2 separate regions of the Homo sapiens genome follow, and region 1 is linked to region 2. A link means that fine-mapping ties the variant in region 2 to the expression of a gene that starts in the linked region. Tissue or cell type: whole blood. Region 2 holds a variant in brackets; the other region holds the start of a gene. All regions are shown on one strand. Distances are between the middles of the regions.

Region 1 (8,178 bases), 24 kb after region 2:
TGGTACAGTGTATTAGAGTCTTGCACATTTGGCTTTTTTAAACTTTTACAATTTTTGCATAAATGAGCATAAGTAAGACAGAAATTGAAATATTGAAGTGTCACCATCTATGCACTGATGTGGTCCTGCTGGCCACTGGGAGTGACTGCTGTAGACACCAGGGTTTGAGCCCTCGTGGATTCTGACAACAAAGCCCGCTGGACTCCTTCCACCCCTCCCTGCCCACAGCCTGGATTGACAGGGACGTGGGCGGTGGGCAGGCGGACTGAGGCCTCTGAGACCCCTCCCCTGGACAAAGCCTGCAGAGACAACTGCCTGGGCCCACGGGTGGCTCACCTTTCTCTCCACGCATCCCCTTCTCTCCTCGGTCTCCTGGAGGAAGAGGCAGGATAATGAGCTTTTGACCCCAGATGTGTGGGCCACGGAAAGGCTGGTCCAGAGTGGGCTCCCGGCCTGGACACTGCATCTCCCCAGCCCTGCAGGCTCACTAAGGCATCACAACGCCCAGGTCTCAATGGTGGGGAGGGGCCCCGAGGCCTGGAATATCCCAGGGTCCCTGTCCGCCTGCCACTGTCTTTCTCTCTCTGTTGCCGTGTCTCTCTGTGTCTGTGTCTGTGTCTCTGTCTCTGTCTCTCCCTCCCTCATTTCATTACAGACAGCTCCAAGGTCCCTGCTCAAGGCCTCCTCGCTGTCTGTCCCCTGGTTACCTTTGGGCCCCACTGGTCCTGCCTTTCCAGGGGCTCCAGGGAGACCGCGTTCTCCTGAAAATTCCAAAGACATATCACTGAGAAAAATGCAACCTAAACAATTCTCCCTGGAAATCTTTGCCCCAAGTGGTTAAGTCCTGACCCTCCCCCACTCTGCCTTGAACCCCTTCTGGTTCCAGGAGCTCTCAGAATTGCTAGCCATGGATTTAGCCTGGGGGTGACTGCAGATGGAGGTGAGGGATTGAGGGAGGGGCCTGCACCCCACCTTGGGCTCAAGGCAAGGTGCACCTTGCTCCTGTTTGTGCCTTGGGAGCAACCTGGGTTTCACACTCTGTTGACCATAAGCCTGGACCCAAGTCACCCACACAGAGCTCTACTGCCTAGCAAGGGACCAGGTTCTGGAACAAAGAATGCGTCCTCAGAGAGCCTCATCCTACCACGTCCCCACACGGAGAGGGTGGGCGCCACGTGCAGCCGCTGCTGCCAGGGAGGATCCGGTTCCACCGTGCGCCTGAGCTCCTGGGGTGTCACACAGCGCTCCACGTGGTTCTGGCCAGAAAGGTGACCCTCCCGTCCCCGATGCCAGCCAAGAGGCAGCCCCCAGCCCGCTCGCTGACCCCAGTGGCTGGGGAGAGTGTATGGGGGCTGGTTCTTGCTTTAGGGTATATTAGCCAGCCATGCCCACTGGTAGAAGCCTGGTTCAAGGGAAGTCTGAGCCAGACTTGATTCTTCTCCTGCCAGGGAAGGTCTTCCTCCCCAGTGTTCCCTCAGCAGGGGATCGGGACCGCACTCTCAGGTCCAGCCTGCGGAGTGGGCACAGAGGACCTGGCCCCGGACACCCACACGGAAGCCTAGACACGTCAGTGAAAGTCCAAGTCATAGGGACATTTGAGCTTGTCCCATCTACACTGGGACATCCCCACCAAGTGCTCCGCAGGCATCATCTTGAATGCGTCCAGGCATGGGGAGCTCACCCCCTAAGGCAGCGCCCTTTCTGAGTTTTTGTGCACGTCTGCCTTATGCCATGCTTAGGGGGACCCAAAACCACCCAAGGCAGGTGCCTGCTGTTCATTCTCCCATGTTCCCTGCAAATCCACATGCAGAGCTCAGGGCTCAGGATTCGGGTGCCCTCTGTGCCCTGAAGTAGACCAGTCCAAGTCCCAGCCCCACTCCTTACTGGTTTGTCAAGTAGGAAAGCCTGTGACCTCTTTGAGTCTCAGTTTTCCCATATGAGGCAGGTGCAGAAGAAAGCGGTCACCTCAATTTTCAGGTGAGAAGGTGGAGGGACACAGAGCTTAGAAGTCGTGCCAGTAGCTGAGCAAAGCTGGTATTGGATCAAGGACTAGGAGACAGAGCTACAGAAGCATGTCCAAATGTGAGCTCATGAAATAGTTAGGAAAGACCCTCCCTCCATTTCAGAACCCTGTTGGGCCCTGGGAGTCAGCTCTGTTCCTGGCTCTAGCAGGGGCCTGACCCAGGCTCTTGATCTAGGAACCACGGTGGGGGTGTTGCCCAACTCTGCATCCAGTTTCATAAAGAGCAAGAGCCAGTGCCCCTGCCATGCCTGGCCTCCCCACCCGGCCCGCACCTACCTCTCTCTCCAATGACACCTGCCTCTCCCTTTGGCCCTGGGGCCCCGGGCAGCCCCGGGCAGCCTCGGAGAATGGTGAGCTTGTCAGAGCCCTCCAGGCCCACCACCTTCACCTCTGCAGAGAAACACAGGTGCCCACTCAGTGCCTGGCCCAACAGTGGCTGGGAAGTGAGGTTTTCTGCTCTGCTGGGGCCTTGGTCTGTCCTCACCCCTCAGGCACTGGTGAGGCGGAGATGTGATGGGGGGCAGAGCTCTGGCTTTGGAGGCCACCCCGACCTAGGGGAGCCCCATCTCCTCAGTGCTGTGTGTCCTGCAGCAAGTAACTTAACTCCTCTGAGCTTTGTGCCCTGGGCTGCCAAGCGGGGATAATAACAAGGTTGCGGCCAGGATTTGGTTAAAGAATGTGCATTTTAAATCTCTTATTGTAATTTATGGCATTTAGAAAGAGCTTAATAAACAGCGGGCACTTTCAATAACTAATGACAATCAATATTTCTAAGAAACTTGGGGAATTGGGGCTGACAAAGCATTTTCCCTCCCAGACCTTGGGAATGTGGTTGTAGAATTACTGGGCTGGAAGGGGCTTTCTAGGTCCTCTGGAGAGGGGCAGTGTGGGGTCCAAGGACACAGAGCCAGGTGTGGCACAGCTGCAGCCAAACCAAAGTTGTTTACTTCTTTGAAAAAATATTTTTCATTTTGTTCATTACAAAATCTACACGCCCTGCTAAGGGCGCTCTTAGAGACCATGGAACGGAGCAGTGCTCTCACCGGAGACATGGCACTGCCATTTTTGGGGTATTTCCTTTCTGTGTTTCCAGTCCTCCTTCCACTAGAGCAGGCTGTAATTTACTATTTATGTTTCCTTCATAAATATGTTATCAGCCAGGGGCACCAGGCCGTCCTTAGGAGCAGTCTCTTGCTGAGCGTCACAGAACCACCTGCTCCTGAATCAGTGAGGGAAACACCTTACCACCGTTCAAACCCTTGTCCCTATCAACTGATTCCGACTCTCTTGGAGGAGAGCCAGAAATCTGCCTTTTTAACAAACCCCCCAAGTCCGTGTGGCAGCCACCGTATTAGAGGGTCTTAGAGTGCCTCCCTGGTAAGCCCGTAAGAAGATAAAGTCAACAGTATTTTCTTCCTTCTCAGTGACAGATTCCAGACCCACCTATGAAGCTCCAATGGGCAAATCCTGGGCTTTCGAGGCAGACAGACCTGGTGACATCCCTCCCCTATCCCTCCATGACCCTGGGCAATGCCTCAGCTGCCCTGAGCCTCCATGTCCTTGCCTGAGGATAAAACAGATCTGTTGGGCATCTTCACAGGAAGATGTGCATAAAAGGTTTTGCCTGGGACACCCGAGTGTCAGTGAGTGGGGTTGTTACCAGCTTTTAGGGACCAGAAAACCCAGGTCTGTCTCACCTGGACATGTGTCCGCAGCCTGGGCAGGCAGGTTCTTGATATGCAGGAACAAGACTAGCAGGACAGCGAGCCCCCGGGCCATGGTGGCTCCACTCAGCTCCATGCTCTCTGGCCTTTGACTCTGAAGAGTCCCCCAGCTCTAACAGGGCAGAGGAAACCAGCTCTCGCCTTGTGCCACAGTTTCTCAACTCCCTGGGGGACACCCACTTCCTATGGGCTGCTTAGTTGCACCAACAGGAGGTATGAGGTCATCTCAAAGGATGTTTCCTTCCACTAGGCTCCAGCAAGATGCCCACCCCATTGGGCTCTCTTCCCCCAGCAAAGACACCCTGCTCCCAGTCCAGAGAGCTCCTGAGACTCCTCTGCTGGAAAGCATCGGCTTTGCTTGTGGCTTAAGGAGAACACAGCCCCCACACCCCCTTTCCATTCCCCAGCTGTCCCCAAGCAATACTCGGAAACCTTGACCTTAACCTTGGGGGATAAGGAAGGTTTTGCTGAAGACGCTTCCTTGCCTCATCTGTTCCCAGAAAATTCAGGGTTTGTCCGTCATCAGGCACTTATCATGGATGGAGAGGAAAAAAATGTTGAGCACTTGTTATGTCCCAAATACTATTTCCATCATATCATCTTGCACCAGCCCCATTCGGTGGAGTAAATTATTTGAAAGTTACAGCTGGAGAAATTGAAGTCACTCCACTAGTAAGAGCCAGGCATTGGACTCAATTCTGTCTAACGCCTTGTAGATCACTGGGATTGCTCATTTCACCTGAAGGTGGGGATGCCTCTTGTTCCCCCAAATCCCTGAGGCCATGTTCCTACTCCGCATCTCGTGCTGTGAATCATGCTTAGCCAGGCCACGCTGTGGACACTTTGTGCGGGATTTTTAGAACGTATAGAAATAGTCACTAACGAGAGTCAGATGGTAGCAGGACTAAGGAGCAGGGAGAGGTGTTGTTTTGTGGTTTGCAACTTCTCTGAGCCAGCGTGTGTAGACTGGGTTTCCAAACTCAAGGGCTCCCCAGGTGGGAGAGAAGTGGAGGGGCGGCCCAGGGGTGGGGGATCCAGGAGACACAGGACCTTGTGTCCAGGCTCTCTGGGCACCACAACGACTCTCGACTGTGTGTGTTTGTGTGTGTTGGCTCCAGCCTGTTGAGAGACAACGGCAGGAGGCTTCATTGCCTCAGACACCGCTTAGTGTCCCTGAGCTACTGGCCCAGGCGGGAGAGGTCTGGGTGTCAGTGGTGCGGCCTCCTTTCTTGGAGAGGATCCAATTCAGGAGCAGCACTCACCTGGGATTGGGTCAGAACAGGGAGAAAGCCAGCAGGTCTGTGCCCCTCAATTCCATTTGCCAGCTGCCCCCTGGGTGTGAGGGGACCTCCTCTTCCTTGCAACATCAATAGGTTTATTTCAGGTGAGAAGTCAACACCACCTTCAGATATCAAGTCAATGTTCCCAAGAGTATGAAAGAATGCAAGATTCTGGCAAGTTAAAATATCTTAACATTGGATCAACAAAAGTCATTTGATTCCTGGCAATGGCAGTTTAGGTATTTGGGGGCATCCTATTAAGGACAAACAGACAAAACCTTTAAAAAGAGATTTGCTCGAAGGCACCGTCAAGCTAGCTATGTAGTAAAGGATTACTTTGCCAAGCTCTCAGGAGCCACAGAAATCTTAGAGAAGTGAAACTAGTAGTGGGGACCTCTTTTTGCACAGGGATTTGCCAATCTCCAAAAGAGAGGTGAGAAGTTGGGCAGTGATTTCACCATCTTGCAGAGCTGAAGGTCAAAGACTGGGGCCTACGGCCTGCCAAAGGTATGGGTTTGGGGTTGGCTTTCAGAAGGGCTGCACCCTAGCAATAGGATGAGTGAGCAACAACCAACATTCACAAGGGCTGCAAACTGGTTTTGAGACATCTAAGTGTCCCAGGAAAGGAATCTCAACTCCTGGAATTATTGCTCATGCCCCCAGGCTCCTTGCTGAAAGAAACAAAAATCTTCTCTGAAGGAGAATGACATCATCCCAGGTCATTATTTCTGCAAAGTGTTTTATTTTTTTCAAATGAAATGTTAAAACACAATCAACGATAACCAGGCTCATGGGAATAAAAGACAATGTGTATAAGGACCAACAGAAACAACAGAATATAGAAAGAGGTCTTTGGAAGCTGTGGATACAGAAGTTACAACATAATTAACAGGAAAAATGGAAAACCATCCTCAGAGACTGAGAACAAATAAGGATGCTTGTCATCACCACTGTGGTCAACATTGTATTGCATGTCACTGTCCAGTGCAGTAGGCAAGAGAACAAAACCATAAAAAGATTGGAAAGGCAGACACAAAGTTGTTATTTTCAGAAGACATGATTGAGGATGTAGAAAATTCTAGAGTTTCTACAGATAAACTAGCAGAATAAAAAGTTTAGCAAAAATCAATTGTGCTTCTAAAAACTAGCCTCAAAGAATTTAAAAATGAAATTTAAAAAATTTGCATCAGCAACACCAAATTCAAATAACTGTGAATAAGTCTAACAACATCCATGCTGGTCTTCTGTGTACAAAACTATCAAATAGGAACAGAAAGACCTAAAAGAAGATTAAAATAATTAGAAGGATATTCTATATGTGTGGATTAGAATACCAAATATAGGAAAAACATTCATCTTCTCTTAATTTATCTAAATATCCACTGTATTATCAATTAAACTACCATTTTCTGTGACAATTGACATGGTGAATTTAAAATTTATATAAAGGGCCGGGTGCAGTGGCTCACACCTGTAATCCCATCACTTTAGGAGGCTGAGACAGGTAGATTACTTGAGGTCAGGAATTCAAGACCAGCCTGGCCAACATGGTAAAACCCTGTCTCTACTAAAAATACAAAAATTAGCTAGGCATGATGGTGGGCACCTGTAAACCCAGCTACTTAGGAGGCTGAGACAGGAGAATTGCTTGAACCCAGGAGGCGGAGGTTGCAGTGAGCCAAGATCGAGCCACTGTACTCCAGCCTGGACGACAGAGTGAGATTCCATCTCAAAAAATATATAATATATATATTTAGCAGGGTGTGGTGGTACATGCCTGTAGTCCCAGCTACTCAGGAGGCTGAGGTGGGAGAATTGCTTGAACCCGGGAGGTGGAGGTTGCAGTGAGCCGAGATTGCACCACTGCACTCCAGCCTGGGCAACAGAGTGAAACTCTGTCTAAATAAATAAACAAATAAATAAATAAATAAATAAAATTTATATAAAGGCAAGAGGCTGATAGCCATGCTATTCTTGAGCAAGAAAAAACAAGGGTGAGTTGCTTGAAGTGACACCAGCAGTCATTATCAAGCGATAGTGATGGAGACAGTGTGGGGCTGGCTTAGGCGTACACAGCAAACCTAGGGAAGTGAGTAGGGAGTGCAGAAGCAAATCCAGGCACATACGGACCCTAGATTTATGACATGGTGGCTCTAAAGAGCAATAGTGAAAGAATAAACTTTCAATGAGTGGCACAAACTACTGGAGAGTCATATGGAAAAACAAGAAGTTACACTTGACTTTTATCAGATGAAAAAAAAATCCACATCAGGAGAAGGGTAGACCCAAATGTGAGAGGGAAAACAGCAGTTTTAGATCATATTATAAGATCTCCAATAGCCTTGCAGTTATTTTAAATAAGATGGAAAACCACAAACCATAAAGGACAAGTGGAAAAATTGATCATGAAAATAGTATTATTTCTTTTTCAAAATACACCACCGTGGGAGGGAAAAGACGAGCCAGGGTGAGGGAAGAGAGGTTTCAACACACAGAAGTGACAAAAGGCTTGTATCCAGAATAAAGGGTTTCTGTAAATCAACGATGTTGTAGAAAGTGGGAAAGTGACTTCAACAAACGCTTATAAAAGATAATATTTAATAGATGATGGAAGTATGAAAACATGCTCAACTTCATAACTAATCCAAGAAATGAAAACTTAAATCTCATGAGATGACTGCAGACACTAAAATTTTTCTAAACAGCCAACTCTGCAAGGTTTTGGTGAAGAAGTGTCAGAAACCTTGGTACAAGCACTTCGGAAAACTGGCAGTATTCCCAACAATTCCCTACGACCAGCATATTCCATAACCAGCGATGTTCAGCTCAGTTCTACTCAACAGAGAGGTGTGCCCAGCTGGAAAGAAGACACGTGTGAAAATGTCCAGCCCCACGCCGGAAACAACCCAAACGTCCATCCGCAGCAGAATGGGGCCGTCAGCTGAGGTTCGTTCATACTGGAGCATCCTGTAGACCCATAAAATGATCGGATTCCAGCTTCACGCAAAAGCTTTGTTGAAATCCGCAAGCACACGGAGCATCCAGGGCGCCAGCACTAAGGCATGCGAACTGTTCATTTGCATCTGTACAGAGTTTGAAAGTGGGCAAAACTGAACAGCAGTGTGAAGGAATGCATGCTCGGTGGCAACGT
Region 2 (8,178 bases):
TATTTGCATGACACGTGCATCGCATGTGCATACGTGTGTGTGTGTGTGCACCTGCGGGGCCTCTGGGAGGTGTAACTGAGGCAGGCATCGGAAGGGCTCTGTAGGACCAGCTGGTACTGGGTGGGCACCTGGGAGCCACAGGTGCCTGCTTCTCCCATCCCCTGAAAGACTTGGCTCCTTCAGGCCACCAGTGCTGCCTCAGGGTGTCTGGCTCCCCTCCAGAGCAGGGGGCTGAGCCAGGTTGGAGCCTAGGCCAAGGCCAAGAGTGTCCCCAGGGCTGGGCTGTCCCTGTCCCTCTGCTGGGGACCGCTGCCTCCCTTCCTGCTCTTCAGAGGTCTCAGGCCTCTGCTGTCGGGAGGGCTGGAAGAAGGGGCAGCAGCTGGCAGGGGGCCTGTGCCCACTAGACCCTAGATTCTTAACTGTAACTGTGGTTTCTGTGGCCAGGCTGGGGGTGACAGAGGCATTCAAGCCAGACTCCATCTTGAATAGGGGCTGGGTGAAATGAGGCTGAGGCCTGCTGTGCTGCAGTCCCAGGAGGTTAGGCATTCTTAGTCATAGGAGGTTGGCAGGACGGGTATCACAAAATACAGGTCAGGATGCGGTAAAGAAGACGGCCAAATCCCACCAAAACCAAGACAGTGACAAAAGTGACTTCTGGTCGTCCTCACTGCTCACTATATGCTAATTATAATGCGTTAGCATGTTGAAGGACACTCCCACGACAGTTTGCAAACACCATGGCAACTTCCGGAACTTACTATGTATGGTCTAAAAAAGGGAGGGACCCTCAGTTCCCTGCCCCTTTCTTGGAAAACTCATGAAAGATCCACCCCTTGTTTAGTATGTAATCAAGAAATAAGTATAAAAATAGCCAGTTAGCAGTCCTCAGAGCTTCTCTGCCTATGGAGTAGTCATTCTTTTGTTTCTTTACTTCTTTAATAAAGTGGCTTTTACTTTATGAACTCGCCCCAAATGCTTTCTTGTGAGAGGTCCAAGAACCCTCTCTTGGGGTCTGGATAAGGATGCTTATTTTCCCCAAAGCTGTGAAGCCTTGCTTTGGCTGGAGTAACTGACATTGAAACCGCCACTGTAAAATTATGACTGAGACAATGAAAGAGATCTGACTTAACCAACTCCATCTTGCTTCTAACCTCCAAGCTGTGCTTGTTCATTCCTAGGCATAGGCTGAACTAACTTTGGGAGGAACTTAGTTTATAGTTCAAAACAAAGATGATAATAGCCCTTTCCCAAAACCTCCTTCTTGCCTGAGGACTAGACTCCTTTTGTAGGACAAATTAGCCACAAGATTAGAAATTATGGTTTAGGAGTCATGCAGCTGAAGGCTACACGATTCTGACCCTCTCTCAACTGCTCCTGAAGTCAGTACTTGGGATATTTTGCAGACCTTGCACTTGATGGATCAGCTGGCACCACCCAGCTCAATAAACTGGCTCGTCTGATCTTGTGGCCCCCACCTAGGAACTGACTCAGTGCAAGAAGACAATTCTGACTCCCTGTGATTTCATCTCTGACCAATCAGTATGTCCAGCTCTTTGGCTTCCCCCCAACCCTGACCAATCAGCACTCCTGGCTCATTCGCTTCCCCCCAACTCACCAAGTTGTCCTTAAACACTCTGATCCCTGAATGCTCGGGTAGACTGATTTGGTAATAATGAAACTCTAGTCCAGTATCCTGCACGGCGGCTCTGCGTAAATTACTCTTTCTCGATTGCAATTCTCCTGTCTTGATAAATTGGCTCTGTCTGGGCAGCAGGCAAGCTGAACCCACTGGGTGGTTGCAACATCAGGAAGTCCCCGTCCTTAGGATGAGAAAGGAGCCCGCCCTGCAGGGCTGGAACCCCATGTATCAGGAAGGTGAAGCAGTGTACTCAGAAAGCTCCTCTGCAGGAGAGAGGGCCATTTAACAAATCTAGGCCCAGGGCAGTCCTCCACCTCTGAGGACTCTCCCCATGAAGGTGTGATGCTCTCTGGGAATGGGAGCACAACTTGACCCTTCCCTGGGATCCTCATTCTCCACCCTGCCCCTGCTACACCTTTTCCAGACCTCATTCTCACTCGCCTTCACCTCTCCAGAATCTGATGTGCTTTCTGGTTTTGTCTTCCCTGTGCTCTGCCTTCCGAGCAGTAGCGGGTGCTCTGTGGAACCCTAGGACCCTTCCATCCTGCCCTTGGGCTCTCAGCCCTTGGGCGATGGATTTGCTGCAGCCTGATCCCCACCCCCTCTTCCTGTCCAGTCTTCAGGAGGAACTGACCGAGCATGGGGCTCTGTGAGGCCTCCTGGCCTTGGTGTCAGTGGCCCTGCCTGGGGCCCTTTGGTCCCTGGTCCTGTTCAGCTGCCTGTACGTGTTTATGGAGACATTGGCCACGTGGCACTATGTGTGGCTTGTGCTCCCAGGCAGGGTCTCAGAGTAGAACTTGCCTCCTTCAAAAGCAAAGTCTCTTCATTTCAGCTGTGAAGTGCAGTGGCATTTTGCCCTCACAGACCTGGGCTGTGTGGCCTTGATCTGTGACCTGACCTCTCTGAATCTTCCTTCTCGTGTAACATGGGATGGCAGGGTGGATTTGAAGGCCCCGGGGAGTAAGAAGAATGTGCTCCCACACTGGGTTTGCAATGTGCTGAAGGGCCAGGAAGCGTAGCACAGCATCACACACCCGGCCCAGCTGCCAGTCCTCCTCCTAGGGCACCCCCTGCCCAGCTGACAGCCCTTGCCCGTGAGGCCTCCCCTTCTGTTCGGGCCTTTCCCTGGGCGCAGGAGCCCTTGGCTATAGGTCTTTGTTGTGGGCTCCAGCCCTGCCTAGCCCTGCCTGGCCTGCCCCTACACCTCCTGTCACCTGCCTGTCTCCTTGGGCTGAGAGTCCAGGCTGTTCTGTTGAGGGTGTTGGGAGCTGTGCCTTGGCATAGGGGTGGCGGGCAGGGATTGACTCTGTTGTGTATCCAGACCTGGGAGAGGAGGATGGAGCCACCTGCTGTGGGCCAGGCTCCAGCAAAGGCCTCCCTCACCTGCTGCCCACACTAGCCAGGGCGGGCTCCCTGGGGTCAGAGCAGAGGCCAGGCTGTCTGCCTTTATTGCCTTCAGAATCTGCTTGAGGGAGAACTGGCTCTCTTCTCTCTCTCCTGGCCTGAGGGACACTGTCTCCCTCCAATAAGCTGATGGTTGGGAGCTGTGACTGATAGGCACCCAAACCCTGAAACCAGGTGTTCTTGCCTCCATTGACCCAAACCCCCGTGTCCCCTGCCCCTTCCCTACCCCTCACCATGGGTTTCTGAGTTCTTCCAATGACTCCATGCCTTAAGTGCAATTTATAAAAAAAAGAACTGGGAAAGGGCCGTCTTGTGGATTCCAGGCTCAGCTGGCTCTAGGCAGAGCGTAATGTTGCTCACCAAAGGTAGGATGTGGTTTTAGGCTGCATTCACAAAGGCCTGACATCTAGAACAAGGAAGATGCCACACTCGCCTCTGCATAGGTCACTCCCCACCTGTGCCCTGGGTTCTGAGTTTTGCACTTTACAGCAACCAAGATGGAAACACTGCTGGGGAATGGGAGTGGAGAGCTGGAAAGAGCATTCTGGGAAGTGGCCGAAGGCAAGCAGGGAGTAACAGGCAGAAAACATGGCCTGCTGCAGAGCATGAACTGTGCATTTTGGGAGGTGACCCCACGCTAGGAGGACATCACTGTTCCAGGCTCCTGGGCACTCAGGGCCCCTCGCATCTCTTTGTCCCCAGCCTCTCTGGGTGTCTGTTCTTGTCCCTTTATTCCTCTGCGTCCTAGGCTTCTTTCCTCTCCCAGTAGCCTGTAGTCAGAAAGAGTGGGGTGGCCAACTTGTGCCAGTGAGCCTGGGCCTGCCCAGTTTTAGCACTGAGCATCCATCTCCTGGAAAAGCCCTAGCCACCAGGATGGTCGGTTGTCCTAAGAGGAGTCTCAGTGGCCCCAGTCAGATGCAACAGGTAAAAAATCCCCAAAACCACTGGGCACAGTGGCTCATGCCTGTAATCCCAGCACTTTGGGAGGCCGAGGAGGGTAGATCACAAGGTCAGGAGATCGAGACCATCCTGGCTAACACGGTGAAACCCCGTCTCTACTAAAAAAATACACACAAAAATTAGCTGGGTGTGGTGGCGGGTGCCTGTAGTCCCAGCTACTTGGGAGGCTGAGGCAGAAGAATGG[C/T]GTGAACCTGGGAGGTGGAGCTTGCAGTGAGCCGAGATCGCACCACTGCACTCCAGCCTGGGTGACAGAGCAAGACTCCATCTCAAAAAAAAAAAAAAAAAAAATCCCCAAAACACTGCATGCCCTATCCTCAAAGTCAGGAAGACACAGAGTTCAGGACACCTGCCCCACTGACCTTCACCTTCTCTTTTCTTCACTAGAATGACACTAATCACTTAGTGAAGAAAGACTAAGCCAAGCCCTTCTCCCACTACCCCCATGGAACATCTGCTGGGTGCACAGCCCTCTCTGGAGTACAAGGCAGTGAATTCCTGCTCTGAAGGAGCCTGCCCTCTCACCAGGAGAACGAGGCCTTTTCCAATAGCATCAGACAAACGGCCTAAATGGAAGACTCAAAGCAGTGGCTCCAGTGAGTCCTGTCCTGTTTCTTTCTTCCAGGCTCAGCCTGAAGTTCTCCTGAATCCTTATAGGAGCCAGAACTCCCCAGTTACTCTCTCACTGCCTGTCTGACCTGAGAGAGAGTTAGGAGGCGGGACGTGACTCTGGAGGCAGGGATTGGACACTGGATCAGATGAGGACTAGCTGAAACAGGGCCAAGGTGAAAGCAGCTTTCAATAAGACACACCCACCCATGTGCCATGTCAGTTTACCATTGCCCACGGCAACACCCAGAAGTTACCACCCCTTTCCATGGCAATGACTTGATGACCCAGAAGTCACCACTCTTTTCCTAGAAATTTCTGTATAAACCACCTTTAATTTGCATTTAGTTAAAAGTGGGTATAAGTATGTCTGCAGAACTGCCTCTGAGCTGCTGCTCTGGGCACACTGCCTATGGGGAGCCCTGCTCTGCAAGGAGGGTAACTTGGCTACTGCTGTACATGGCCGCTTCAATAGAAGTTGCTGTTTGATGCCACCAGCTCACCCTTAAATTCTTTCCTGGGTGAAGCCAAGAACCCTCCTGGGCTAAGCCCCAATTTGGGGCTCACCTACCCTGCATCAGGTGGATGTCCAGATTTAAGTGCAAATACAGACAATTCACATTCCAATCCATACACAAATGGCAAACCCTTGGGGAAGATGGCTGCATCGTTACCGTACGTGCTCCCATCACTCCAGGAGAATTTCTCATTATTGTTTATAAAAGGCATGCCTTGTGGCATTGAGACAGACATAGTGTTATATGTTCACTAAGCCTGTTTTTCCCCCTCCTGAGGGTACAAGAAGGCTGCTTTTCTAAACCTCTCTTGCAGTTAGATGAGACTATATGATGGAGATTTAGTCAATGGGATGTTCACAGAGATTATGCAGACCCCTTTCTAAACTGGCCCCCCAAACCTTCTGTCCCATGTCCTGGTGAGGAACCCCAAAGCCCTCTGTAAACCTGCATTGCACTGCATGGGCCCTGCATTGCAGCACAAGGGGAAATGATGACACTGTGATCCTGAGGGGTTGTTTGTTATAGCAGCTATTTGTGCTTACACTGACTCATGCAGAGATTGGTACCAGAAGTGCAAGAGCGTGGCAACAGACACCTAAAATCCAAGGCACTGGCCTAGCAGCCACATGGTGGGTGGAGGGCTGCAGAGTTTTGTTTGATGAACATGTTGTCTTCAATAACTTGGAAGGCAGTTCCTTGGAACGTCTCTTCCAGCCCCAGGGGATCGACTTGAAAAACAGAACTTTCAGTGTGTGTTTATTTTTATTGGCTGTCTGACTAGGTGTTACAAGAGAAAGAAGAGTTTAGAAAAGAAATTAGCAAGCAGGAAAAAAAATGGATTAAAGAGACTAGGAATTGGAAATCTCGCAGAGTTGGAAAATGCCTGAACATTGTTAGACTCCAAACAGTACGAGATGAGGTTTTAAAAGCACTAGGGTAAGAAGGATCAATGGAATACGTTGTTTTGAACAGAGTGACTCAAAATTGTAGTAAAGATCCTTCCTGCCCAAGCCTGAAAACTTTAAGAAAGACTTCCTTAAGATGAGAGATACAGGGAGGCATGGGGATAAATTGGCAAAGAAGTGCATCAAATCTGAATGAAATATGAGCCAAATTTCTATCTCAGGAAAGAAGATGCCCAGAAGAAATCTGGTTTTTTAAATCACTGCAGGAGTGATTCTTGTCACCATGTCCTGCCCTGGACTATGACCTGGGCAAGAAACAAACTTGCATTGTGTATCAGCCCTGAGATATTAAGATTGCCTGTTAAAATAGCTGCTGTTTCTTATCTTTACAAAGAGGTGGCCCAGGCGAGGAGAGGAGAAACCTGCATTCTCCTCCTGGTTCAAAAACTTACTCTGGGCTTTGTGCCAAGTTGGCCTCCTACTGATTTCTTTAGCTGCACTTGAGCTACTCAGTTTGGTTTTCATTGCCACTGTGACTCATCAGCCAGAGGCCATATGGGTGGGGGGCAGCCAGTTATCTGATTCCTGCAGCTTTACAGGAGGCTGGAAGCCCACCCGCCCACCCCAAGATGTGGCAGAAGTCCCAGTCGGGAAGCCAGCAGAGCCAAGGACAATCTGGATATGTCCATCTGTCCCAAGGTAGCAAACGGGCCCTCCCAGAGCCCTGTGCCTTCCATGACGGCATGGGTGTTCTACAATTTCATTGGGGTTGAAACATGAATCATCAAATCTGAGAACTGGAAATTAAGGGGCAGCTGCTCTGGGTGATCTTACCACCCAGAACTCAAGTCAGTGCCTCTGTAGCTCCCAGCAGACCCACAGGCACAAGAAGCTCACTACTGGCATGAGCAGCCACCAGATCAGTGTGGCCTGGGATGGTGGTGACTGACATTGGAAGGTCTTCCTCTTGTCAAATGCAGTTCTGCTTCTCCATAAAAGCTAATCTTCAAAGTGGGCCAAGTGACCTGTATGGCGGGAAGTCCAAGGTTGTTTACCCCGTACCGTCGGGAAGGGCCTCTACTGGGCTGATGGCCAAGACATGTGAGTCAAGGACAGAACGCACATCCAAAAACAAAAACAAAACCTGGAGCGGCCATCACGTATCCAGCATGCTTGGCTCTGATGAATGCTTGGCTCGGCTGATACCTACCTGGCTTCCCAGCTCCTGTTTCTCTGGGCTGTGCGAGCCTGGATTCTAATTGAAACCCATTTGCGTTAATTCGTTTATCTCTCTTTTCCCTTCCAGGATTGCTGTCTTCTTTAATATGAGTTTGCTCTGATGAGCCAGAAGATCTCCGGGTTTTGTTCGCTTGCACTAAAACCTTCTACTCGGCTCTCTGAAACTAGCACGCTAGTGGTTCCTCAACCTAACTGTCCGTCGGAGCCACCTGGGGAGGCTCTGAAAAATACAGATTCAGGGGCCCCATCCCAGACTTTTAGAACCAAAATCTCAGTGGGTGATGCCTAGAGCCCTCCCTCTTCTCCGCTGATGAGCTGTGGTAGGAAGTCACACAGCAGCACATCAAACAGAGATGACAAGTCAGCCTGCCTCCCACTCCATCTCCAGCCTTCTGTGGGCCATGTGTCCCCAGGCCCCCCACCCATCCCTCAGAATAAAGGTGAGAGAGATCCAAATCAAAAGCAAGTTGAAATGTTTTTAAAACATGCAATAAGGATCAAATTAATTACAGTGAATATTTACATGCCTTAGATAGATTGTTTTATGGGGATGTGGTATTATGACTTGAATCTGTTTCATAAGTGTCACTTATGACACTACGTGAACTTAAAGAAAAGCTTGTACCCTTTGAATCAATAAGCTTACCAGAGAACTTACTCTTGGAAAAAAAATGCAACGTAAGAGAAAAAAGCGTGTACATAAACGTGTTAATTACTGGCTAGGATATCAGTATTCAACGATAAGAGGAAACACTGGATAGATTATAAGTGTTCAACAATAAGAGGATGTCCATTTCCTCCAGTGAGTATTAAATGGCCATTTAAAAAAATGCTCAATGTGCAAGCTCTAGTGACCTGGAAACCTAAGTGTAAAATTAGATCATAGAACTGGAAGTGCCGACTTCTA

What was found. PIP is the estimated chance that this variant, and not a neighbour inherited with it, causes the effect.
Region 1: FCN1 starts here. The variant in region 2 is fine-mapped to the expression of FCN1 in whole blood (TOPMed, PIP above 0.99).

Annotation. Positions count from the first base shown.
Region 1 is chr9:134,914,049-134,922,226 of GRCh38, forward strand. FCN1 (ficolin 1) reads right to left here and starts at 3,864. Exons shown (of 9, transcript NM_002003.5): 1 at 3,721-3,864; 2 at 2,300-2,413; 3 at 708-761; 4 at 337-372. The coding sequence starts at 3,823.
Region 2 is chr9:134,889,549-134,897,726 of GRCh38, forward strand. No RefSeq gene overlaps it. Among named protein-coding and RNA genes, the nearest start is that of FCN2, 13 kb to the left of the region's middle. RefSeq lists an enhancer at 257-757. The variant C/T (reference allele first, on the strand shown) is at 4,188.